7 linked regions of the Homo sapiens genome follow. The protein of the gene in region 5 purifies or fractionates together with the protein of the main gene of each other region. This does not show direct contact. Each region holds a gene or a part of one and is shown on either strand. Other genes may lie near its edges. The genes, in order: ENDOD1, TTC39C, RTN4, ALDH3A2, TMEM43, CAV2 and MMS19.

Evidence for each region.
Region 1: the proteins of TMEM43 (region 5) and ENDOD1 purify together in Homo sapiens (affinity purification with mass spectrometry; 3 studies listed by BioGRID and IntAct, with this or other methods). This does not show direct contact.
Region 2: the proteins of TMEM43 (region 5) and TTC39C purify together in Homo sapiens (affinity purification with mass spectrometry; 2 studies listed by BioGRID and IntAct, with this or other methods). This does not show direct contact.
Region 3: the proteins of TMEM43 (region 5) and RTN4 purify together in Homo sapiens (affinity purification with mass spectrometry; 4 studies listed by BioGRID and IntAct, with this or other methods). This does not show direct contact.
Region 4: the proteins of TMEM43 (region 5) and ALDH3A2 purify together in Homo sapiens (affinity purification with mass spectrometry, with the first as the bait; one large-scale study listed by BioGRID). This does not show direct contact.
Region 6: the proteins of TMEM43 (region 5) and CAV2 purify together in Homo sapiens (affinity purification with mass spectrometry; 2 studies listed by BioGRID and IntAct, with this or other methods). This does not show direct contact.
Region 7: the proteins of TMEM43 (region 5) and MMS19 purify together in Homo sapiens (affinity purification with mass spectrometry; 2 studies listed by BioGRID). This does not show direct contact.

Annotation. Positions count from the first base shown.
Region 1 is NC_000011.10:95,092,846-95,096,345, reverse strand, and holds part of ENDOD1 (endonuclease domain-containing 1 protein precursor), read right to left. Parts: intron 1-3,500. UniProt on the Homo sapiens protein: May act as a DNase and a RNase. Plays a role in the modulation of innate immune signaling through the cGAS-STING pathway by interacting with RNF26.
Region 2 is NC_000018.10:24,080,754-24,084,253, reverse strand, and holds part of TTC39C (tetratricopeptide repeat protein 39C), read right to left. Parts: coding exon 3,315-3,500; intron 1,342-3,314; coding exon 1,173-1,341; intron 1-1,172.
Region 3 is NC_000002.12:55,029,952-55,033,451, forward strand, and holds part of RTN4 (reticulon-4), read right to left. Parts: intron 1-3,500. UniProt on the Homo sapiens protein: Required to induce the formation and stabilization of endoplasmic reticulum (ER) tubules. They regulate membrane morphogenesis in the ER by promoting tubular ER production.
Region 4 is NC_000017.11:19,672,751-19,675,423, reverse strand, and holds part of ALDH3A2 (aldehyde dehydrogenase family 3 member A2), read right to left. Parts: intron 2,274-2,673; coding exon of another isoform or gene 2,190-2,273; exon of another isoform or gene 2,149-2,189; intron 1-2,148.
Region 5 is NC_000003.12:14,138,552-14,142,051, reverse strand, and holds part of TMEM43 (transmembrane protein 43), read right to left. Parts: intron 2,873-3,500; coding exon 2,755-2,872; intron 460-2,754; coding exon 257-459; 3' UTR 1-256. UniProt on the Homo sapiens protein: May have an important role in maintaining nuclear envelope structure by organizing protein complexes at the inner nuclear membrane. Required for retaining emerin at the inner nuclear membrane.
Region 6 is NC_000007.14:116,502,738-116,505,889, forward strand, and holds part of CAV2 (caveolin-2), read left to right. Parts: intron 1-3,152. UniProt on the Homo sapiens protein: May act as a scaffolding protein within caveolar membranes. Interacts directly with G-protein alpha subunits and can functionally regulate their activity.
Region 7 is NC_000010.11:97,491,923-97,495,422, reverse strand, and holds part of MMS19 (MMS19 nucleotide excision repair protein homolog), read left to right. Parts: intron 1-3,500. UniProt on the Homo sapiens protein: Key component of the cytosolic iron-sulfur protein assembly (CIA) complex, a multiprotein complex that mediates the incorporation of iron-sulfur cluster into apoproteins specifically involved in DNA metabolism and genomic integrity.

The sequences.
Region 1 (3,500 bases), on a different chromosome or scaffold from region 5:
AATTATTACTATGACAGATGTTAAGTTTCATGAAAATGAAAGGGTAAGTCACCATTCAGAAGATATAACATGCATCTTGAAGGAGGAAATTTGAAAAAAAAAAAAAAAAAAAAAAAAAGCTTTCTTGACTAACAGTAATTCTAGAAGATAGACCAGATAACTGAAAACAAATGCTACTGGCAAATAAGAGGATTTACTTTCTAAAATTTTCACTTTCAGAGATGAGAGTTTAAAAGGAAGAGAAATTTTATGCCCAAAGAATAAAATCTCAATTCCCTAAGGAAAGCTCCATTCAATCACCATGAATCACCAGTAACGGAGCTAAAAGAAATCTGAAGCTGGCATTTACATACAGAATGGTATGTTAGTAGTGAAACCATAAACCATCCAAAGAACTGGATTAAAAATAAAATAACAAGTCTAGTCAGCCAGTTTGGATTCTGGAGAGAAAAAACTAACATTTTAGTTAGAAAATAGTGTGATAGAGAATAAAGAGAGTTAAGAGCTTTGGATTTGGGCAGTCATAAACTCCTGTCCAGGTTTTGCCATCTAGAAGCTGTTTGACCTTGGATAAGTTACTTAACTACTCCGAACCTCAGTTTCCTAAACTATAAAACACAAGTCATAATACCTAGAGTTGTTATAGAGATGAGATGAGTTAGAATGTGAAGACCTTTGACATGGTAAGGGATCAATAAATGATAGTTCCTTGCCTAGATTGTCCAGATATAAGTCTAAACTGAAAGAATAGTATAGGGAATTGTCACCACTGGACTGCTTCAGGACAGATGTCCCTGAAATATTCTGCCAACGCAGGTAAATACCTTAACTTGATCCTGAGAATGGCCTGCAAAACAAAAGGAAACACTAAATCCAAAGATGAAGAAAAAGCCAGAAGGGAAAAATTCAACAAAGGTTGGAACCATCCCCTGGGTCAGGCACTTCCCAGTCTTATCCAGTCTCAGCACAATAGACTGGAATGCCATTGCTCACTGTTTTCTGACAACACACTTCTTGGTTTTCCAGGACAGAGAGGGTGGAGATGTCTTTGGTACCTGTTTGGTTTGTTTTTGCTTTTAATCACTCAAATCCACCCTCCATCCATTCATTCAATCTTCCACACATTTCATCTCTCATCATGCATTTATGAAGCAGCTACTGTATGAATGTGGGACATACACCAAGCATTTGAGAAGATACATGGATAGATATTTTACTTTTTAGGAGAGATTTGCAGAATTGTAGATGTCACCTATCTAATCCAACATTCCATTTGTGTGTGTGTGTGTGTGTGTGTGTGTGCGTGCACACGCCTAGCACCTACTGAAGTAACACCTTATATACATATTAATATTTACTAAGAGTTTACCATATTCCAGGTACCATGCCACATGCTCTCATGTGTTATCTTGTTTATTTGTCACAACCTCTCTATAAACACTTTTACAACCTTTAATGAACAGATCCAAAAAATGGGGCTGGAAGTCACATAGCTTGTAAATGGAAGAGCAGGGATCTGAATTAAGTCTCTTAATTAAGGAGTAAGAATCAGGATTGTCCTGTTCACTGCATTCCTTACACAGAGATTTAAGTGTATGATGCTCTATATATCTGTTCTCTGACACAATGAAAAGAAGGCTGAGGTTGGAACAAATTGAACAGTATTTCTGTTTCAGGTTGTATAAGCCATGGATGGAAATTAAAAATCAAGGACTTAATCAAGGTTCTAACTTGAAACAACCATTTGCATTTACTAAGATCTGAAGTAAGACCTCACTGTGCCCTCCAGGAAAATGTTTTTGCAGTTAACCAGAATATCCCCTTCATTCCAGAGTAAAGTGACACTTGAGCAACCTTTATGCAGCCAAGTAAGTGCTCCCACTTGTCCTATGACTGTCAGAAAATAGAAGTGGAGTAGAAATTAGAATTCTCACATAAAAGATGAAAATTAGAGTCCTAAGACCATTAGCGCAGTGGATCCATTGTGAGATCAAAGAATCTCCACAGTGTATCAGAAGAGTAATCAGTAATGAGTTCAAAAATAAGCTGTGTGACCCTAAAACACCTCAGTTAACCTCCCTTAGCCAGTTTCCTCCTTTCTACAATGAAGATAATATCTACCTCACAGTATTTTTTAAGATTGAACAAATATACACTATTGTTACTGAATATATAAATTATATATTATATAATTAATATGTATAATATATTAATTATATAATTTATATATTCAGTTCCTTCCATGTTTATAAAATGATAGAGCTTTATATGTTGGCTTCTGGCATAAATCAGCAATGCACTTTAGAAAGGTATCATTGGCATCTTATCTAAAAATTCTTCCATTAAGTGGAAAGGAGTCAACAAACTAAAAGGTTTGAGGCTTCCTGCACTAAACCAGAATCCAGTTCTCAGGTTTCTGGAGTCTTGACTAGAACTCCTCCAAACCATCTCCTGTAGGCAGAGCAGAGATCAAAATCATTTGGGATAGTTTCAAAGGCCAAAGCTAAGACTGATGGAGTGGCTGCAGAGCAGGGTTCCAGCTCTGCATAGGGAGCATGTTTGTAACAGTTGCTGCTGGCCAGCCCTGGTGCAAGCTTCTGAAACAGGAAGCGCCCCACTGAGAAAACTGAAGCAGAACATCTCACCTGCTCCTGCCTGATTGATCCTCCCAACATCAAATTATTTTATTCAACACTTATCGCGTGCTTTCTATAAGCTGGGCACTAGGAAAAGAATGAGTAAGATGCAATCATCATTCCTCAAGGGCTCAAGTTGGGGAGACAGATACATAAGCAGATAATTACAAAACAACATGGTAAGTATGAAAATAGAAAAACTATAAGAGCACTGAAGGGGTGAACCTAACTTGGGAGGTGGATACAGTTCAGGTGGGGAATTCTTTCTGGAGGAGGTGACACCTCAGCAGAGTCTTAAAGGATGGAGTAAGGGCAGGAAGTGAAGGATAAGATGGGGTCTGTGTAGAAAGGGAATTTGGGCAAAGGGAATCAGCATGAGCTAAGAAACAGACATCACAAACAGTCTGGTTTATGAGAGGAACTCCAGGCAGCTGGATAATGCTAGAACATAAAATATGAGGGTGGAGCATGGTGAGAAACTAGATTGGAGCTGGAGACAGGAGCTAGGCTATGGAGAGCCTGTAAACTGCATTCTGCAGTGTGAACTTTGTCCTGTAGGGGCTGGGCAGGCAACACTTTACAGATTTTCAGCACAAGAGTGACTAAGTTTCTGTGATCTTTGACTTAGGAGATTCTTTTCAAAGGGAAACTGCAGTGTGGACTCAAAAGCTGCCGAACTGGGCTTTGGGAATTCAGTGTCACTGCTGCCCTGCCTGACTCATCACTGGAGGCAAGCACTGAGTTCCTTTGGTCTCCTGCCTCTTCCTCCCCTGTGTGCGGGTCCTCTTGGTAACACTGACCTCATAAAAAGGTGATGTGGGTACAAGGAGACTCAGCATTATAAAATGCTTGGAAGCCGCCAAG
Region 2 (3,500 bases), on a different chromosome or scaffold from region 5:
CCTCAGCCTCCCAAAGTGCTGGGACTGCAGGCATGAGCCACCATGCCCAGCTTATATCTCAATTTTCAACTGCTAGTATAATCTCTAAAACACATCTTCCATATACAAAGCACTTAGAAAACTGCTCTGCATGGTCTTCAGATTTAAGGAGTCACTTTATGAAGGAGAAAAATGACTGGGAAAGTAATATACACTCCACTGCCTGCATCCCCACCCCCAAAAAAACAAATTATTCCTGTGCCCATGAAAGCATTTCTAGGCAAAAATCTTCAAAAGGACTCATGGGGGCTGATTTCTCAGAGTGCCTGGTTAACTGGAGGACAGATGTTGTTAAAATCTCAAACTGATTCCCTGATAACTCTTGGTAACAATGTAGATGGAGCAGCTACTATAACAGCTATCTTATTTCATAGGTATGATTAATTTCTTATAGTTTCATTTTTCTACAAATCCTCATAACCTCAAACAAGCAGATAAAAAGATATGCAAAGGAGAAGTAGACTCCAAAGGCCAGCGCATTTCTGGTTCTGGAGTGAGACAACCCAGGCTCACTCACTGGGCAAGCACAGGAAGTTGCTTGAAGCCCTCTTAGATCCCTGTTTATTTTTTCTATAACATGCAGATGACAATTTTACACCTATGTCACAGGGTTGTTCTGAGGATGAAATGGAAAAGCGTGTATAAAGTTCTTAACGCAGTACTGAGCCAAATTAAGCACATGAAAATGTGATAAAAGCTCCTAGTATTTCAAAGCTCATGTTGCCCTGATATTTAAGGCAGTAACTTTTGTATAAGTCAATTGTTAGCCAAGATCAAAGTTTAGAAAGAGATTATTAGTAATTCAGAGAGGGAAAAAAATTGTATTTTGTATTTTTCAACTCAGCAACTAAATAATGCTCACGTGCCTTAGGCTGGAAGTGCACCAATCTTGTGTCATTAGCAATGAGGAATCTTACCCCTACTTCGCCCACATCTTCCGAACAGAAGGTAACTGACTAACATCCTGGGTTCCTGGAAGAGTCTTCCCTAGCAAAGACACAAGGAAAGGCAAAAGAACAAAATGCTCCGGGGCCCTGGGACATTCTGGCTCGTTTTAATACCAGTCCTCAAGTGAGAATCAGAGATTTGATCATCGGAGGCTTTATTTTAAAAAGATGAGGAAGGTACAGTACCTCTAGTCGTTGTATCCGTCCCTTGAAAAACATAAAGAGGGAAGAATTTGGATAAGCAGCTTCTTTTTTAAGGAGAATTTCCTTAGCTTCATCCAGGCCTGCCTTGTTATCACTGCCATCCAAGGCAAAAAACGGGCGGACTACAGTATGATACCAGAGCAGAGCTAATCTAGAGGAAGAGGGAGAGAAACATTGAGCACATTAACTTTCCTTACACCATTTCCATTTTTCAAAACTCCAGTATGTGTTCTTCCAATACTACTCTATCCAAAAAGCTTACTATGCAGTCTCTGAAGAAGTAAAATCAGAGACTTTCCCCATTTTAATGTTAATATTTGGAAAACTGCAACTTTAGCACAATATATAAATCAGAAGACACCCTTCCCTCAGGGGAGAAGAGAATAAAGTAACAGGAGCATTTAGCTTTTCTGAGCCTTCTAGATGGATCGCTGAAGAGATGGCTGACATAAATCTCTGAATTCTACACTTTACTCATTAATGCACCAATTAGAAATGGTAACTAGTCACCATGAGTTTACCGTTCCCTTGTAATAAAAGCTTTATTTATTTATTTTTGGCAAAAGGAAAATGTTGTTTTCTCTTGCGTTCACAAAACTTAGGGTATAAACCTAGAATCTAAGTTTAAATATCATGCACAAATAAATAGGTCAAAAGGAAAAAGAAAATTTATAAAAAAGAATAAATTTAAATATGGAAACCACAGACACAAATTATACTAAGTTGGGTTAAAATAAGTGAGGGGATAAGACAAAGGGCTCTTTCTCTGGCCTTTGAAGATGTTCAATTTAAAAAACAAGCAAATAAATAAATTACTTCAGACTCCCTTGCTCCAAACTCATTATTTAAAAAAAAAAATGGCCATGTTAAACTAGGTAAACAAAACAGAGTCACTGGGATTTGTAATCCTAGCTACTTGGGAGACTGAGGCAGAATTGCTTGAACCGGGACCCGGGAGGCAGAGGTTGCAGTGAGCCGAGATCGCGCCACTGCACTCCACCCTGGGCTACAGAGCAAGACTCTGTCTCAAAAAAAAAAAAAAAAAAAACAACAGCCAGACAAAAATGTTTAACCAACATGTCAAATATTTTTATGTAAATGCATACTTCTGGTGTGCTTATAAATTTGGTTCTCTTATGGAGCTCATACTAATGACACTATTAATTCTATTCATTTCTTTATCAGAGATAAGCATAAAATATTAAGATATAAACAGACAAATGATCACAAGTTAACAAACCTATTAATTCACATTAATAAAGGACAACTGTGTACTTCAATGAGTTTAGGGAGGCATAATTTTTTTAAATGAAAAATTAATGGTATTTTAAATAGCTATCAGTTGATTAAGAGTTAACATCCAAATTTCTCAATACTGATACAAGTAGAAATAGAGGTAAGGTCCTCTATGATATCAACATTTTTGGGGAAAATTTTGACAAGTGCTGTAATGTTAGACAAAGAATATCCGGAATCGTGTTAAATTACTCAAGTTACAAATGGTAGATATTTGCCAGACTAAAACAAACAAACAAAAAACACATCACTTTTAACTGATGTAGAAATTGGTGAATTCTTGTTCTAGATAGTTATATCAGCTTCCTCATGCTCTCCTGCTTAAATAATTATTATTTAAGTTTAAACCAAGGAACATAACATGACTCAGTTTAGCGAAAGAGCACAAAATATCCATGTCACATATAGGAAACCACCTTGAATCATCAAGGAAAATTACCCAATGTGAGAATTCTTTATAAGAATAAAAATTTCAGAAACACAGAAAAAGCTTAGCAAATTTGTACCTCCTAAGTCCAAAAATCAGAATCGTGAATCTCAGAGAATGTGGTCAAAGTCACAAAAACTGCTTATAAAATCATTTGAGGTTTTAAAATACATGACTTGTGAGACTAGTGAACAACGCCTTGTTCTCTAACTAAAGTCAGCTTAGAACCACCACCACGACCACAGAACACAGTCCTTGGTGTTGCATTGAAAGACATAAGACACAGCACCCTGTCAACCAACCAAACATTTTACCTGAAGTTTCCTTTAAAGTCTTTGATTGTCGTTTACTTACTTTCAACACTATATTATCTACCAAAGCATTGCAATACAGCTACTCACGTAGCTAAAGGGGCCTTCATGTCCTTACTTTCGCTTGCATACATCAGTGAAGAAAGCCCCTGTAGGCGGTCTCCAGGAAAACCCAGCAGGTTGATGATTTTGAGCAGGTTTGGGGGCACCATGGATATGCAAAGGTGAAAAAGGCCATATCCAAAGCTAACAGCACCTTTCAGTCTGTTCAGAGAC
Region 3 (3,500 bases), on a different chromosome or scaffold from region 5:
TATTAGCTTGTATAAAACTGAAATTTGAGGGTCAAAGAGCAGAACCAAATAATTACGCAGCTGCTCCATCTAAATAACAGTTAACCAATTCTTAACAAAATGGTTGTCTTTTTTATCTAGACAATATAGTTAAAAGCCACTAATTCAGAGGCTAGTCTATCTGGAAAGTGAACTAGAAACATATATTACTGTTAAAGTTAGTGGGAAAACAAACTACATCTAAATTTGTGCCATAATTTTAAAGTATTTTTTTAATGTACTGTACTCTTATTCCTACCTAGTGCAATAATCTTTTATAATAAAAACTATATTCCTGGAATTTTTCTAAGTAAAAAAGTTTTCAAATTGGTATTTCAAAGATTCATTATGTTTAAGAAAAAAAGAAAAATCTTCATTTTGTAAAATGGGATTCGATCCAGTTACCCATAAAACAAGTACTACATTTCTAAAAGCTCTTTAAAAAAATCCAGAATAGTTAACTATCTTCTGGGACTTCAAGAATACAGTTCAGACTCCTAATAAAGCAATCACAGATCATGAAATTGAATTGCCTAAGTCCAAATCACAAATCCATCACTTACAACTGTAACTCTTAGCCTTTCTGTGCCTAATGAAACTTGTAAAATAAGGATAATAAGAGTACCCACCTAAAAATGTTGTGAAGGAGGGAGAGGGAAAGAAAAAAGAAGAAACAACTTGCCCTAAGTCACAGAACTAGGAGGCCAGAGGGTCAAAACATCTAATTCCCAAGTCTTTGTGCTTTATAATTATTATTATTTTTTGGCTAGGCTTCCTCAAAGCACGAGATGTGCTTCATCTTCTGAAGGATGTATTTATGTACAAGTGCAACTGGTGCAATCCTTCTTACTGTATCAGCCCCTCAAGTTAGTTCTCCTGAAACAAGGTAAATCGTCACCCAGTAAATACCTTGTAATTAGCAGAAATATTGCATTGATCAATTGCTTCTATTTTACAATGTAACAACATTTATAGAAACATTAATGTGGGACAGGTACTGTGCTGAGCCGGCACATTTGTTTCAGATGTTCATTCTGTTCTCAAAACTACCCTGTAAGGTAGGTACTACTGTTACCCCCATTTCACATACGAGAAAAGAGGCATTTAAATCATATCTAATTACAATACTACAAAAAACCTGCATTTTAAAACCATAGAACTTCTGCTTCTGGCTATGAGAGTAATTACAACAGACTAATTCTTCCAATATAAGCAACTAAAAATATGGGCAAAATACTAGAAGCAACTATCTTGAGACACTGGACAAGAGGCAGGACAGCAGTGTGAATCCTGAGAAAAGGGAAACCTGCAAGATGACTACGCTGCTTTCTGTCTGAAGGCACATTCTGGTCTACAGTACAGAGAGAAGCCTAAGAATACCGCACTCTTGCTAAGCTGAGGAGGCTGAGGAGTTGTCTGGAATTTGTGAGACAGGGTAACATACAAAGTAAAGCCTCACAGAAAAGGAGCTCCAAAAATCTGGATAGGGGTTCCTCTTAAACCTCTGGGTGAATACTACGCTGCATGTGCACAGCACAAGACTCGGCAAGGCCTAGCCAAGAAACCTATGGTAGAGCTGCAAATTAACTGGATTATATCGAAGGTCAGAAAGTGCTGAAGACCTGATCTAAAAATTCTGACCAGTCAGAAAGGAAAGATCTCTCTAAACACCTCAAGCAGGACTACTCTAAGCCTAAAGGATACTCTAGACCAAGAGTCAGCAAACCATGGCTCATGAGCCCATATTGTATTGGAACACAGCCACGCCCATTCACTTCTGTGCTGTCTATAACTACTTTTGCACAATAAAAACAGAGACGAACAGTTTAGACAAAGGCTGTATGGCCCACAAGCCTAAACTATTTACTCTAACTGGCCCTGTAAGTCTGCAGACCCCTACCTCTAGACCCACCCTAACTTTAAAATCAAAACTTGAAAGGATCAAAATGATTTTCCAGCAAATTAACTGCCTGCCAGAACAAAGTTAAAACCACCAAATCCATGACATGCAGTATAAAATAAATTAATGGACATGCAAAGCAGCAAGAAAATATGACCATAAATAAGAAAGAATAGCAAATATAAACAAACAAATAACGTAGACGTTGGATTCGCACTTTTTTTTTTTTGAGGCGGAGTCTTGCTCTGTCACCCAGGCTGGAGTACAGCGGGGCTATCTTGGCTCACTGCAACCTCCACCTCCCAGGTTCAAGCAATTATCCCACCTCAGCCTCTGAGTAGCTGGGATTACAGGTGTCTGCCATCACACCAAGCTAATTTTTGTGTTTTTAGTAGAGACGGGGTTCACTACGTTGGCCAAGCTGGTCTCAAACTCCTGACCTCAAGTGATCCGCCAGCCTCAGCTTCCCAAAGTGCTGGAATTACAAGTGTGAACTAACACACCTGGCCTGGATTAGCAAATATTAAAATGAAAATTAAAATAGCTATTAAGATATTAAGTACAGAAAAAGACAGACATATAGAGTAGACAGGGAATCTTGGTGGAGAAATATAGACTAAAGGACCAAATGGAGATGCTAGAATTGTAAATTATATTAACTGAAAATAATCACTAGATGAGCTTAAAGGCAGATTAGACAATACAGAAAAAAAGATTTATTGATAAACAAACTTAAAAAACAACAACAGAAAGTATCCAAACTGAAACACAACAAGGGAAAAGGGCAAGTGAAAAAAGGAACAGAGCCTCAGTGCTGAGAGACAATCAAGGAGTTAAAATACCTATAATTGCAGTCCCCTTAAAAAAAGCAACAGTGGCCAGGCATGGGAGCTCATGCCTGTAACCCCAACACTTTAGGAGGCCAAAGTGGGAGGACCACTTGAGGCCAGGAGTTGGGACACCAGTTTGGACAACACAGTGAGACCCTATCTCTACAAAAAACTTAAAAATTAGCCGGTGTAGTGGTGCACACGTGCAGTTCTAGCAACTCAGGAGGCTGAGATGGGAGGATCACTCAAGCCCAGGAGTTTGAGGCTGTAACAAGCCATGATCACGCCACTGCACTCCACCCTGGACAACACAGTTAAGACCCTGTCTCTTTAAAAAAGACTGAAGAAGTTAAAAAAAAAAAAAAAGAAAAAATGGCCTAAAATTGGACAGAAGTTGGCATTTTGAAAATACCAACCAACAGAGCCACAAAGCTCAATGTACTCCAAGCAGAATAAACACAACACCACAAAAAGGCACACCATAAGGGTCAAACTGAAAATCAAAGATAGAGACAACCCTAAAAACAGTCAGAGGAAAAAAGCAGGTAAACAACAATAAGAATGACCTCACCTCTCATTGATGTAATCCAAAAGGTAATGAACGCCTTTAAAGTTATGAAAAAACTGACAATCTAAAATTATATACAGATGATCCTCATTATTCATGGATTCCTTATTTGCTCATTTACCTGCTCACTAAATTTGTAGCCCCAAAATCCATACTTGCAGCACTTTCAGGACATGCAATGAGC
Region 4 (2,673 bases), on a different chromosome or scaffold from region 5:
AAGGACTACATATCCCTAGGAAGCCTAGGAAGCACGGTTTAGGCCAAAGGATTATGCCCTTCCTCAAAAAACAACAATAACAATAAGAGTAAGACAACGTGATAATGAAGGCTATATTCTGTCCACTGTCAACTAGCTAATGTCAGAGTAGAGACAGAAGATGAGAGTACTAACTTATTATCCTAGCATTTTCAGTAGGAAGCTGAAGTCTCTACATGGAATTCAAAAACTGGTATACAATTTTGTTTCTAAAATTCAAAAGTAGTACTGAATTTAATCCTTCCTATTGAAGACTGAGGAAGGGCTGCTGCAATCTCAAGGTTCAAATGTCATATTTAGTTGTCAAAGGCCTAATGAAATTTATCAACATTAACCTCTTATGTTTCTCGACCTTTTAAAACCCACATCTCCCACAATGCCTTCTGTAGCTTATAAGCTTTATTGGAACTTTACTTTGTGTACAATACTTCTGCTCTAAATCCCTTCTAATTCTAGTAAGGTAATTAATAAAATAAAATCCAAGAGTGTAACAAAATAAGGAAACTATTAAGTACATAAAAGCCATTTCAGAAAAATGTAATTACAATAAATAGACTATTCAGGTAAATATACAGTACAGATTCAAAGTCATTTATTTTAAATAAAAGGTAATTTGATAAAAAGAGGATTAAAAGCTCAGAAAGGAGCAGAAAAGCAGCAAAGTGGAAAAGAAAACCAAATCTCTACCTAGTTCCAGATTGAATCCAAAGAAATATTAACAACTATTAGTAATGAGAATTGAGCGGAAGGGTTGAAAGTGGCCTGGGGAATCACTGACACCTACTCCCTCACCCTGTAGATGAGCAAGCTGAGGCCCAAGAAAGAGCTCAGAAAAGGCCTTGCCCAAGTTCATTGAGCCAGGAATCAAACCACATTTTTTTGTTTCTGCTAAAGGTTTTATATATTGCTGCTTCTTTTATATATTGCTGCTTCTCTAGACCCTCACAGAGAAACATGCCTGCCAAACCCTTTGGGAACTCGAACCTGCCTGGCACACTGCACTGCACCTGAGGGAGGCTTCTTGGGGGTTTGGTAAGATTGGAGAATGCAGACTCAGCCTGGGCCTCCGTATTTTCCATGAGGCTAAAATATTCTATCCTACCAAGATGCATTATCAAACTGAGGAACCGAGGTCTTGGGAAAAGAACAAAAGAGACAGATATTGACCAGAGACCCAAGTAAGCTTCCGACCACACCTCCAGCCTCAGGAAGGCAAAGAAAGTAGCCCCTAAATTGTATACTACACCTTGATTTCACGACATTTGCTGCCATGAATTCCAAAGTCAAACCTTTTTTTAAAAATGAAAACAAATCAAAACTACTTAGTGATTTAAAAAACATATTCTTAAATTATGACATAAAGAGTTCAGTGCCTAGATGGTGACAAGTCTGAATTAGTCAGCTGGCACCTCCCCCAGGAGAGCTGAGTAGAAGGGGAAGAGAAATGAGGCTCACACTCAGCTGCCCTTTTCCAAGAAATGATGTATGCTTCACCTGGACGCAGCTAAGCCATTGCCTCTGCACACTTCTCTTAGATTCCTAGCAAGTCACTTCACCCTTTTAAAATTGTGGATAAGTGGAGTTTTAACACCCTGATACTCTGGGCCCAGGTCCAAAATGTCTAGAGATAAGTAAGTTAAACATTCTTTTTTCTTTCTTTTTTTTTGGAGACGGAGTCTTGCTCTGTCACCCAGGGTGGAGTGCAGTGGCACAATCTTGGCTCACTGCAACCTCTGCCTCCCGGGTTAAAGCAATTCTCCTGCCTCAGCCTCCCTAGTAGCTGGGACTACAGTCACGTACCACCACACCCAGCTAACGTTTGTATTTTTAGTAGAGATGGGGTTTCACCATGTTGGCCAGGCTGTTCTCGAACTCCGGAACTCAGGCAATCCACCTGCCTTGGCCTCCCAAAGTGCTAGGATTACAGGCGTGAGCCACTGCGCCCGGCCCATTCTTTTTTCAATAACCCTTAAGCCTCCAACTGTAGCAAAAAAAAAACAAAAATAAAAACAAAAACAAAAACAAAAACAAAAACAAACCAAAAAACCCTTGAAAACATACCCCAACTTGGCCCACCTTACATATAGAAAGAAAACAAAAAGTTCCTACCTCACTCTTAACAGACAGGGCTGGGTTTTGAAATCTGGTGTTCATCTCTGCTTACTGGACCAACGCAGTCTGTGAACTACCAGAAAAATCAACAGGGCCTTTCTCCTCAGCACAGCTTGGTATTTCTGAGAAAACCCAAATGATTTCAAATGCAACTGGTATCTCCAATTCCACTAAGGCTGGGATACTGTAAGATGAGCCAAACCCCTTTCAAATTTTTGTTGTTGTTGTTGTTGAGATGGAGTCTCGCTCTATTGCCCAGGCTGGAGTGCAGTGGCATGATCTTGGCTCACTGCAACCTCCACCTCCCGGGTTCAAGTGATTCTCCTCCCTCAGCCTCCCGAGTAGCTGGGACTACAGGTGCGTGCCACCATGCCTGGCTAATTTTTGTATTTTTAGTAGAGACAGGGTTTCACCATATTGGTCAGGCTGGTCTTGAACTCCTGACCTCGTGATTCCCCTGCCTCAGCCTCCCGAAGTGCTAGGATTACAGGTGTGAGCCACTGCGCCGGCCCCCTTTCAAAT
Region 5 (3,500 bases):
GAAGCTGTCAGCTTGCCATTCATGAGCTGCTGCTGCCCACCAAAGCTGCTTACTGGCAAGAAGAGATGTGGGGAAGACATGAGCTGGTGAACACCAACCTGGTGCACATGCTGCCAAGTCTGGCCCCTGAAGAGGAGAGGGAGTGCAGAGTCCAAAATTGACCGGGGCTCCTGCTCTGGCATGGAGCTGGGTCAGAGGTGAGAGAGGACCTGGATCCTAGGGCTCACGCAGGTGTCGGGCGGGTGCCAGGGTCTTTTCACTCCAACTTTTTGGCTGGCACCCGTGTCCGAGCAACAAGGATGGGCACAAGGGCCAGGCCGGCAATGAGGAGGGCCCACAGGGGTCGGTAGAAGAGCCAGCCAGCCGCCACGGTCAGCAGGGTCAGCGAGGTGGCCACACAGAAGGCAAAGGCTTTCAGGCCAATGTTGACCAGGTCTCGGAAAACAGGAAACCAGTCCACTGTGGAAAGGAGAAAGGTGATGAGGTGCCACCTGCTCTACACCTCACCAGCTCAGCAGATCTCTCCTGTCCCTAGATGAGGATGGGCCCATGTTGCTACATGCATGAGGAGGGGAGAGGATCAGTGGGTGGAAGGCAAGGAGCTTCGTTCTGAAAGCTAAGGGAGCACAGGAGCCTCTGCTATGAGCTGCGTGGTTGGGCACATTGCCTAAGCCACCCACTCTACCCTGATCCAGGGGAGAGGATGTAGCAGTGCTTTGTAAACTTTAATACTTTATGTGGAGAGTAGTCTGAGGCCAGTATAAAGACATTTGCCTGTAATGCTAGAAATAACCTGGGTCCTGCACACTCATACAAGAGGCTGTGGGTGGAGCCTCCTGAAGGTGCCTATTTGGGCCTCTCAGCCATTCCTAGAGGTGTTGGTTCATTCATGCAGCAGGCTGTTACTAATGATTTATGTGCCCAGCACTGAACCAGCAGGTGCTAGAGGAAATAAATTAGCCTAAGCATTGGCCTCTCCTCAAGAATCTCACAGACTATTGGTCCAATAGGATAAAGCCCAGAATCCAGCTAAATTCATGAGGAATTACCCTATTCTTGCCTTGTGTGACCTCTCCAGGTTGGCATTCCATAGCTGATGTCCACTCAGGGAATCTTCGCTCAGTTCCCAGGAGGCCACCAATGGTCTGGAATCACTGGGTTTGCAGAGCAAGCCCTGGTGCCCCACCATGCCTGCAGCACACCCTGCAAGCCACTACCTGGCCTCATCCTGATCTGTTCCCATACAGCACTGCTACTCAGCCCTTATAATAAGCAAAGTTCATGTTTCTGAACGTTGCCTGTGTTAGGCACCATGTGCACCATCTCATGAAGCACTCATGCCCACCCTGTAAGGTAGGTACTCTTCTTAACTCCATTTTACCCACAGGGTCACTGAGACTCAGGGAATTAAGAAACTCACCACCAGTCCTCCTGTTAGAAAGTGCCAGAACCAGGATTTGAACTCAAGACCGTATGGGCCCAGAGCCTGGGCTCTGAGCTGTTGCTCTAAGTCTTGTCTGTCTCTAGCTGTGGAGTCTTACACACGTTGGTATTTATCAAACGCATGGGGAACTGTGTGCTTCCCTGCTGCGCTCCCAACTCTCCCCACCCACCCTGGGGGTCCCTCCACACTCTAAGTCTGTCCTGAGTCTGGCGCATTCCAGACGTAGAGTGAATTGGGATCACAGACATCAGAGATCCAAAGAAGGGCCCACTGAGACAGACACGAGGAAACCAAGGCTCCAGAAGGGAACTGGTCTCCCCAGGGTCACACAGGCAAGAAAGAGGATTCCGTTTAAATGCTCATCTCTCGCTAATGTGCCCACCACGTCACTGGTCTTTCTGAGCACAATTCAGCTGTCCAAAGAAAGGCTCAGGGAGAGTCCTTCCCTTCCCGGGCCTGTTTTCCCAACTGTAAACAAAGGAGGTGGTCCCCCCAGCTCAGACAGCCCAAGATGTGCAGCCAGACCTCTTCTGACTTGTGCATGCTGAGTGGGGAAGAGGTTTCTGTTGGCACCCAGAGAAGACTGATGCAATCATGTGACTGGAAGGGACACACACCAGGGAAAGGCTTGGATGGAGAGTCCTCCGAGGAACCCCATCCTCCTGGGCCCAGAACGCACTTAGTCACCCTGGGCACTCAGATCCCGAACCACGCTGGGCCACAGGTCTCCTACTGGGCTCACTGGTGCCAACCTCAGGTCAAGGAGTGGCCCAGAACTCTCCTTCATGCTCCAGACTTGCTGGCTGCCCAAATCTAGCCCAGGTTTTGGAGTGAGGAAGGAAGCATGAGAGTTTTGGGTGTTTCCTATTTGCCACATTTCATAAAACTCTGCATGTAAGGGGTGAGGTGACTGAAGCTGAGATGGGAAGGGAACGGCCAAGCATCCAGAGCTTGGACGTGACAGATTTCAAATGCAGGTCTGGCAGGCTCCCATGTGGTATTCAATTGTGGATCAAAGGAATGAGCAAATGATCGAGCCAGCAGATGGACGAACCTTCAGGCTGTGGAGTGAGACCAGTGCCCCAGAGTTGGCCCCACCCAGCCTGGCCCCTGGCAGCTCCTGCCCTCAAGCCTGCCTTCCTCTGCTCCCTCATCCCAAGGCTATGGAGCGGGGACACAGAGATGAGCCAAATGCCTGGTATCTGCACAAGGGCCATCCCATCAGGCTGGAAGGGCTGAGATGATGCGACAGGCAGAGGAGGCCCTTTCAGGGTGCAGGAGGGAGGGCAGTGACCCACCCCAACACCTACCCAAGGTGTAGAGGATCCGTGTCATAAGGTTGAGGCCCATGAACATGGCCATCCAGCCAGCTGCCCGCAGGCCCCAGGTCTTCATGGAGTTGCTCCTTAGTTCTCTATGAAACACCTCCTGCAGGACAAGGTGGGGGCAGGTCAGGATGCTGAGGGCCAGTGGCGTACCCAGTCGGCAGGGCAGGTCCTGAGGGGGCTGTACCAACTCGGGAGCTGTTGGCCATTTCTGAACAGGCCAGACGGAGTGGGGGCAAGCCTCCTATAGGGCTAAGTCCTTCTGCCCATCTGGCAGAGCACAGGGCAAGGCATGAGATCTCTGTGGAACGTACGGGCCTTCCTCAGCTCAGAGCCTGCCAGCACCTGGAGCCCTCAGCCCACGGTCTCACCTGGAATGAGCAGGACCCTGCCCACCACCCCTGAGCAGGTTGGAGGATGTCTGCTGGGCAGCATGCTCTGCGCTATGTGTGTGATCTGTTTAATCTCAGAACCTCTCCACATGGCTTGGGGACACTGCACCCTCCTTCTCAGGCTCCATCGCTGTCGCTGCCCCTCTTCCTGTCCATTAGATGCTGCAATTCTTTAGCTGCTTCAGTCCATACTCTCTCCCCGGACATCCCATCTGCTTCCTTGGCCTCCACATGCCGTGACCCTCCAATTTAAAGCTGCAGCTCTGGCCCTCTCCCGGGCCTCACAGCCCTGCAGCTCCCACCACCTCCACCACCTCCTTGACATTTCCACTTGACATC
Region 6 (3,152 bases), on a different chromosome or scaffold from region 5:
TCCTTTAAACAAACAATCAACAACAATAAAACACAGAAGTCTGGTGGTGTTGGATCCTAGACCAGAAGTACGGGCCATTAGGAATCAGTGAATTAGTTGGATTCCATACTACAGTCAGACAGAGATAGCTGCTGTTTGTTAAGCACAGGTTATTGGTCATAAGTGGATCATAACCAAAGAAATGTGGCTGGAGCACCCATATCCCTTATTTTTGCTGGAATGCAAAGCAAACAAATGCCCAACTGATGGAAATGCGATAGTAGCAATCTCATTTCTAGAAGACAGTTTTCATACAGTAAATTGCTATGAATGCAGTCTGCATGACTCTACAATTACTACAACACTAAATAAAAGTCTCTATCCTATGGCCTTATTATCCAAGGATATATATTATCCAAGGAATATATAACCTTACATATATTAATATATATAATATATATATATTATAAGATTTACTTAAGAAGTATTGGCCACATTCAGCCTCAACCAAATTTTGGGTCAATCAGAACTGCCTGGAGTTTCAGAAGCTAAACTATTTGTGATGTTGAGAACCCAACTTAAGTTTGATGTCGGAGGATCATTAGATTCTCTGCTCCAAAATGAGGGAACACAAGTAAACAAAAATAAAATCCAAATGAGTTAACAACACCCTATAAACTGAACTCCTCGAATGTGGGTAACTGCTTTGCTGAACAAGAAGATTCACTTTTGACATGTGCTAAATTCCCTTTTAGGACATGGAGATCTAAGGAGTCACGGAGATAGAAAATTTGTTAGCCTAAGGAAGAATAGAAAGTACATTGTATTCTGGCTGGGAGCAGTGGCTCTCGCCTGTAATCCCAGCACTTTGGGAGGCCAAGCTGGGCAGATCACTTGAGGTCAGGAGTTCAAGAACAGCCTGGCCAACATGGTGAAACTCTGTCTCTACTAAAAATACAAAAATTAGCCAAGCATAGTAGCAAGTGCCCATGATCCCAGCTACTCAGGGAGGCTGAGGCAGGAGAATCACTCGAACCCGGGAGGCGAAGGTTGCAGTGAGCCGAGATCACTTCACTGCTCTCCAGCCTGGGCAATAGAGTGAGAACCTGAAAAGAAAGAAGGAAGGGAAGGGAAGAGGAGGGGAGGGGAGAAGAAAGAGAGAAAGAAAGAGAGGGAGGGAGGGAGGGAGGGAGGGAGGAAGGAAGGAAGGGAGGGAGGGAGGGAGGGAGGAAGACAGAAAGAAAAAGAGAAAGAAGGAAAGAAAGAAAGAAAAGAAGAAAGAAAAAAGAAAAGAAAGGAAAGAAAGAAAGAAAGAGAAAGAAAAAGAAAGAAAGAGAAAGAAAGAAAGAAGGAAGGAATTCTAAGTGAAGTGGATTTGGTTAGGAAACTTTCTGATCTAAACTTCAGCCTTTTAATAGGCCAATTTGAGGTCATCTTGTTATAGTTATTTTCATTATATATTCTGCCTTCAAAATAGGTCTATTTATTATACATTATAATGACAGCATCATACAGGCATTTCAGGGGTACATAATAAATGTCAATCCTCATAGCCAGTTCTGAGAGATCTCCTGGTGTCACTTTAATTTGTAGCAACATGCCCAAGACCACATATCAAGTGAGAAATATAATAGAATAATAAGTCTAAAGTTGCCATCATTGAGGTTTCTATTCAGCTATTTATCTCTGAAACACTTAGTAATTAATTTTCTTATTATATAAAAGTGTTTCATGTATTTAGCACTTGAAATAAAACACAATTTGTGGAGACAGTCAATGTGAATAATTCTATATTCTAAAAATATATCAATCAATCAGAAAGCTGCCTAATATTTCCTTCATTTTGGGCTAAGTACAGCAGACCCTCATTTAAGTCATATTTTAATAGCAAACCAAGAAAATCAGCCTACTCCCTTATGCCCACCCAGGTAATAATAAAGCTTCCATTGAGGCTACCAGCAGTGCCTGAAAATCTCACAACTACTTTTGTGCTCAGAGGACATTACTACAACAGAGAACATTATTTAGAAAATTACATATAAAATTAACCATCCTGAGGACTATAAGGATATGCAGCTATGTTAGGAACAAGTGTATGAAAAATAACAATTTCAGGATAGACTAGTTTTCTTGTGTAAAAGTTCTAACATCATTTGCAGGGTTCTTTCAACTATACCATACAGCCCTTTTCAGTGTGTGTGATTACTGTGAAAAAATTAAAAAATATAAAACATAGTTAATAACATAAGGCATAAAAGAATGATAAATTTATGTTAGCTCAACCATTTACTAAGGGTCAAGGATGTCCTCACTGTTTAAAAAAACTTAAACGCTAGTAGGAAAGACAGAAATACAGCATCTATTTATAATACCTTTTGATACATGTGAAAATTAAGAAGTTTGTTTCAGTACTTTAGAAATACAATGAGGGAATATCCGATCTAGCCTGGTCCAGGAAAAGGGAAGAAGACTGAGGCAGCAGGAAAGGCTATCAGGAAGTAAACCCTCAGGGAAGTGTGAAGACTTAAGCAGGTTAATGTTAACTGGCAGAGACCAGGTAGATAAAGACATGGTTTTATTTATTTTTGTTTTACTGTTTCAGATAGCATGCCACCAGTAGAAAGAATATTAGTGTTTATTATCTACATGACTATATTTTTAGGCAACATATTTTTTGTGCATCTTATCACTTTAGTCCATTTGCATTACTATGAAGGAATACCTGAGACTAGGTTATTTATAAAGAAAAGAGGTTTATTTTTGCTCACAGTTCTGCGGGCTGTACAGGAAGCACAGTGCCAGCATCTACTTTAGGCAAGGACCTCAGGAAGCTTCCACTTATAGTGGAAGGAGAAGGAGGAGCAGGCACGTCACATGGCAAGAAAGGGAGCAAGAGAGAGAATGTGGAGGTCCCAGACTCTTTTAGTTAATCAGATCTCAAGCAAACTAACTGAGTGAGAACTCACGTTACCAAGAGGGTGGCAGGCACTAAGACATTCATGAGGGATCTACCCGCTGTGATCCAATTATCCCCACTCGGCCCCACCTCCAACACTGGGGACTACATTTCAAAATGAGAGTCAGGGGGACAAAAAACCCAAATCATTATCAGTGATCATTGTTCATTTATTTGTTTCAAACTCTCAACCAAATTTAAGTAAATGGGTCAGTAT
Region 7 (3,500 bases), on a different chromosome or scaffold from region 5:
AAATGCAGAAGGAGCACCCTTTGATCACAAAAGCAGCTGCTGCCACCTTTGTTTTGTACCTGGGTTCCTGGTGAAAGTGTCAGCTGTAAAGAAGCTGCAGGCGATGGGAGGGAAATAACCTGGCAGCCTAAGGGTTAAAGGCCTCTTGGGCAAGCCTTCAAAGCCTGCCACTACCTGGCCCCAGCCTTTTTTTCTCACTGCTCCCTGGACGTTTAATTCCAGGCAGCCACCTTTATTCGTAGTTCCCTGAGTGCTTTCCTTCCCAATTCCCTTCACTAGCTCTGTGTAATCGAAGTTAGACCTGAGAGTCAAGGCCCAGCTTGAGTTCCCTACCCCTCCCCAAGGGTTTCCTGATTAACCCAGCCAGACAGCATCTCATACGTCAGAATCTTTGTAGTACGCACTTATTTCTCAACCACTCATGTATTTAGTGGACTAGTTTAGTAGCTGTTGCTGTATACATCTCCACATCCTACCCTCCCAGTTGTACCACCAGAATCTCCTGAAATTGGCATCAGTAGGTACACAATAAAAACTGCTTGAGTGAATGCAATGAGAAATGTTGAAGGAAGAATCTGTGGAATTTGAGTTCTAACTAGTTATTATAGGGCTTGAAGGAGATAGAGGACTCTAAGAAGACCCCAAGGTTTTGAACCAGAGGATGAGGAAAAGAAATACTTTGTCCAAAATTAGGACGAGAGCTGATTTTCAGAGAATGTGATTTTTGAACACGTTGAATTTGCAGGTGATGGATATAATTTTTTTCCTTTTAGTTATTTGGATTTTCCTTCATTTCAGTCTTTATTGTATTGTGTTTTTCCATGTTTGTGATTCCCTAAGAATACCTCTATTCCTTAAGTCAAAGTATTAAAGAACAGTAAAATACAGTTTAGTGAAATATCTGAGGCATTATCAGCAGAAAGGGCATTTTGAGAGCTTGATTGGAACTTAGTCCTGATTGGGATTTTTCTCTCTCCTGCTCCTTCTCATCCTCCCACCCTACCCGCTTCCCCTCACTTCCCTTTGGCTGCTAGTCCAGATTCTCAAGAGGCTTCAACTCCATCAGACAGAGATCTGTTTGTGCATTCTGTGTCAATGATCACATGAATACTCCTTTGACTTCTCAGTGCCCCCACACAAACTGGTGCCTTGCTAAGGAAAGTGTGGGTAGTTAGGAGGTGCTAGTAGGTCCATTTTTAAGAGCAAATCTTGAACGTGTTGGAAAATCTTAGACCCTCCTATAAAGGGAAATGAACTTACACTGATTTTTTCCTTGATACCAGCGAAAATACCGTTAGGAAAATTAACTCTCTGTTAGCTTTCTTCATCCCAGGAGTCCAAGTGCATAATTAATAGTATTTCCAGGTATTACGGGTGTGTTGTTGTTGTTGTTTGTTTGTTTGCTTTTGAGATGGAGTTTTGCTCTGTTGCCCAGGCTGGAGTGCAATGGTGCGATCTCTGCTGACCGTAACCTCTGCCCCCCAGGTTCAAGTGATTCTCCTGCCTCAGCCTCCCGAGTAGCTGGGATCACAAGCATGCATCACCACACACGGCTAATTTTGTATTTTTAGTAGAGATGGGGTTTCTCCATGTTGGTCAGGCAAGTCTCTAAACTTCCGACCTCAGGTGATCTGCCTGCCTTGGCCTCCCAAAGTGCTGAGATTACAGGTGTGAACCACCATGCCAACCCTGGTTATTTTTAATTTTGGATAATTTGCACCATTAAAAGAATTAATCACTTAAAGTTAGTGGCCCATGGTCCATAAACCCAGGAATTTTACTTCTTTCTCATGCCAACCCAATCTCTGTTTATATCACTGTGGTAACACAGAACTTGTTACACTGTGATTGTTTTATTTATTTATTTTAGAAGCAGGGTCCACTCTGTTGCCCCAGCTGGAGTGCAGTGTGACCTCGAAGAACTTCTGGGCTCAAGTGATCCTCTGGCCTCAGCCTCCAGAGTAGCTGAGACTACAGGCCCGTGCCACCACACCTGGCTAATTTTTTTGTAGCGAACAGGGCCTTGTTTTGTTGCCCAAGGTGGTCTCCAACTCCTGACCTCTAGCGATCCTCTAGCCTCAGCCTACTGTGATTGTTTTAAATGTCTTTCTGGGCTAGGCATGGTGGTTCATGCCTGTAATCCCAGCACTTTGGGAGGCTGAGGTGGGAGGATTGCTTGGGCCCAAGAATTCGAAACCAGCCTGTACAGTATAGTGAGACCTTGTCTCTACAAAAATCTTTAAAAATCAGCCCAGCATGGTGGTGTGCCTGTAGTCGCAGCCACTTGGGAGGCTGAGGTAGGAGAATCACTTGAACCCTGGAGGGAGAGGTTACATTGAGCCAAAGATGGCACCACTGCACTCCAGCCTGGGTGACAGAGCAAGACTCTGTCTCAAAAATGAATAAATGAATGAATGTTTGTCTTTCTGCTCCAACAGACTATGGACTTCCCCAAAACTCCCTGCCCATATTTCTATCTTAAGCCCTAACATGGTACCCTATTTATAATATTCAGTAAATGTTGAATGAAAACGAACATATGGCTTTTTTTTTTTTTTTTTTGGGAGATGAAGTCTTGCTCTGTTGCCCAGGCTGGTGTGCAGTGGCGCGATCTTGGCTCACTGCAACTTTAGCCTCCTGGGTTCAAATGACTCTTCTGCCTCAGCCTCCGAAACAGCTAGGATTACAGGCCCATGCCATCATGGACAGCTAATTTTTCTATTTTTTTTTTTTTTTAGTAGAAACAGGGTTTCATCATGTTGGCCAGGCTGGTCTCAAACTCCTAACCTCAAGTAATCCACCTGCCTCGGCCTCCCAAAGTGCAAGGATTACAGGTGTGAGCCACCATGCCTGGCCACCATCTTCCTTACTTTTTTTTACGGTCTTGTAATAGCTTTATTATCTCATTTTTCTCTAATTTTTTCTTTCTTTTCTTTTCTTTTTTTTTTGAGACAGAGTCTCACTCAGTCGCCCAGGTGGGAGTGCAGTGGCTCCGTCTCCACTCACTGCAAGCTCTGCCTCCTGGGATCACACCATTCTCCTACCTCAGCCTCCCAAGTAGCTGGGACTACAGGCGCCCGCCACCACGCCCAGCTAATATTTTTGTATTTTTTTTTAGTAGAGACAGGGTTTCACTGTGTTAACCAGGATGGTCTCAATCTCCTGACCTCGTGATCCGCCCGCCTCGGCCTCCCAAAGTGCTGGGATTACAGGCGTGAACCACCGCGCCCGGCCTCATTTTTCTCTAATTTTTTCTACTTTTATACTTTTTTTTTTTTTTTTTTTTAGATTGAGTTTCACTCTGTAGCCCAGGCTGGAGTGCAATGGCATGATCTCAGCTCATTGCAAACTCTGCCTCCCAGGTTCAGGTGATTCTCCTGCCTCAGCCTTCGGAGTAGCTAGGATTACAGGCATGCGCTACCACACCCGGCTAGTTTTTGTGTTAGTAGAGACAGGTTTTTGCCACGTTGGCCAGACTGGTCTCAAACTCCTGACCTGAG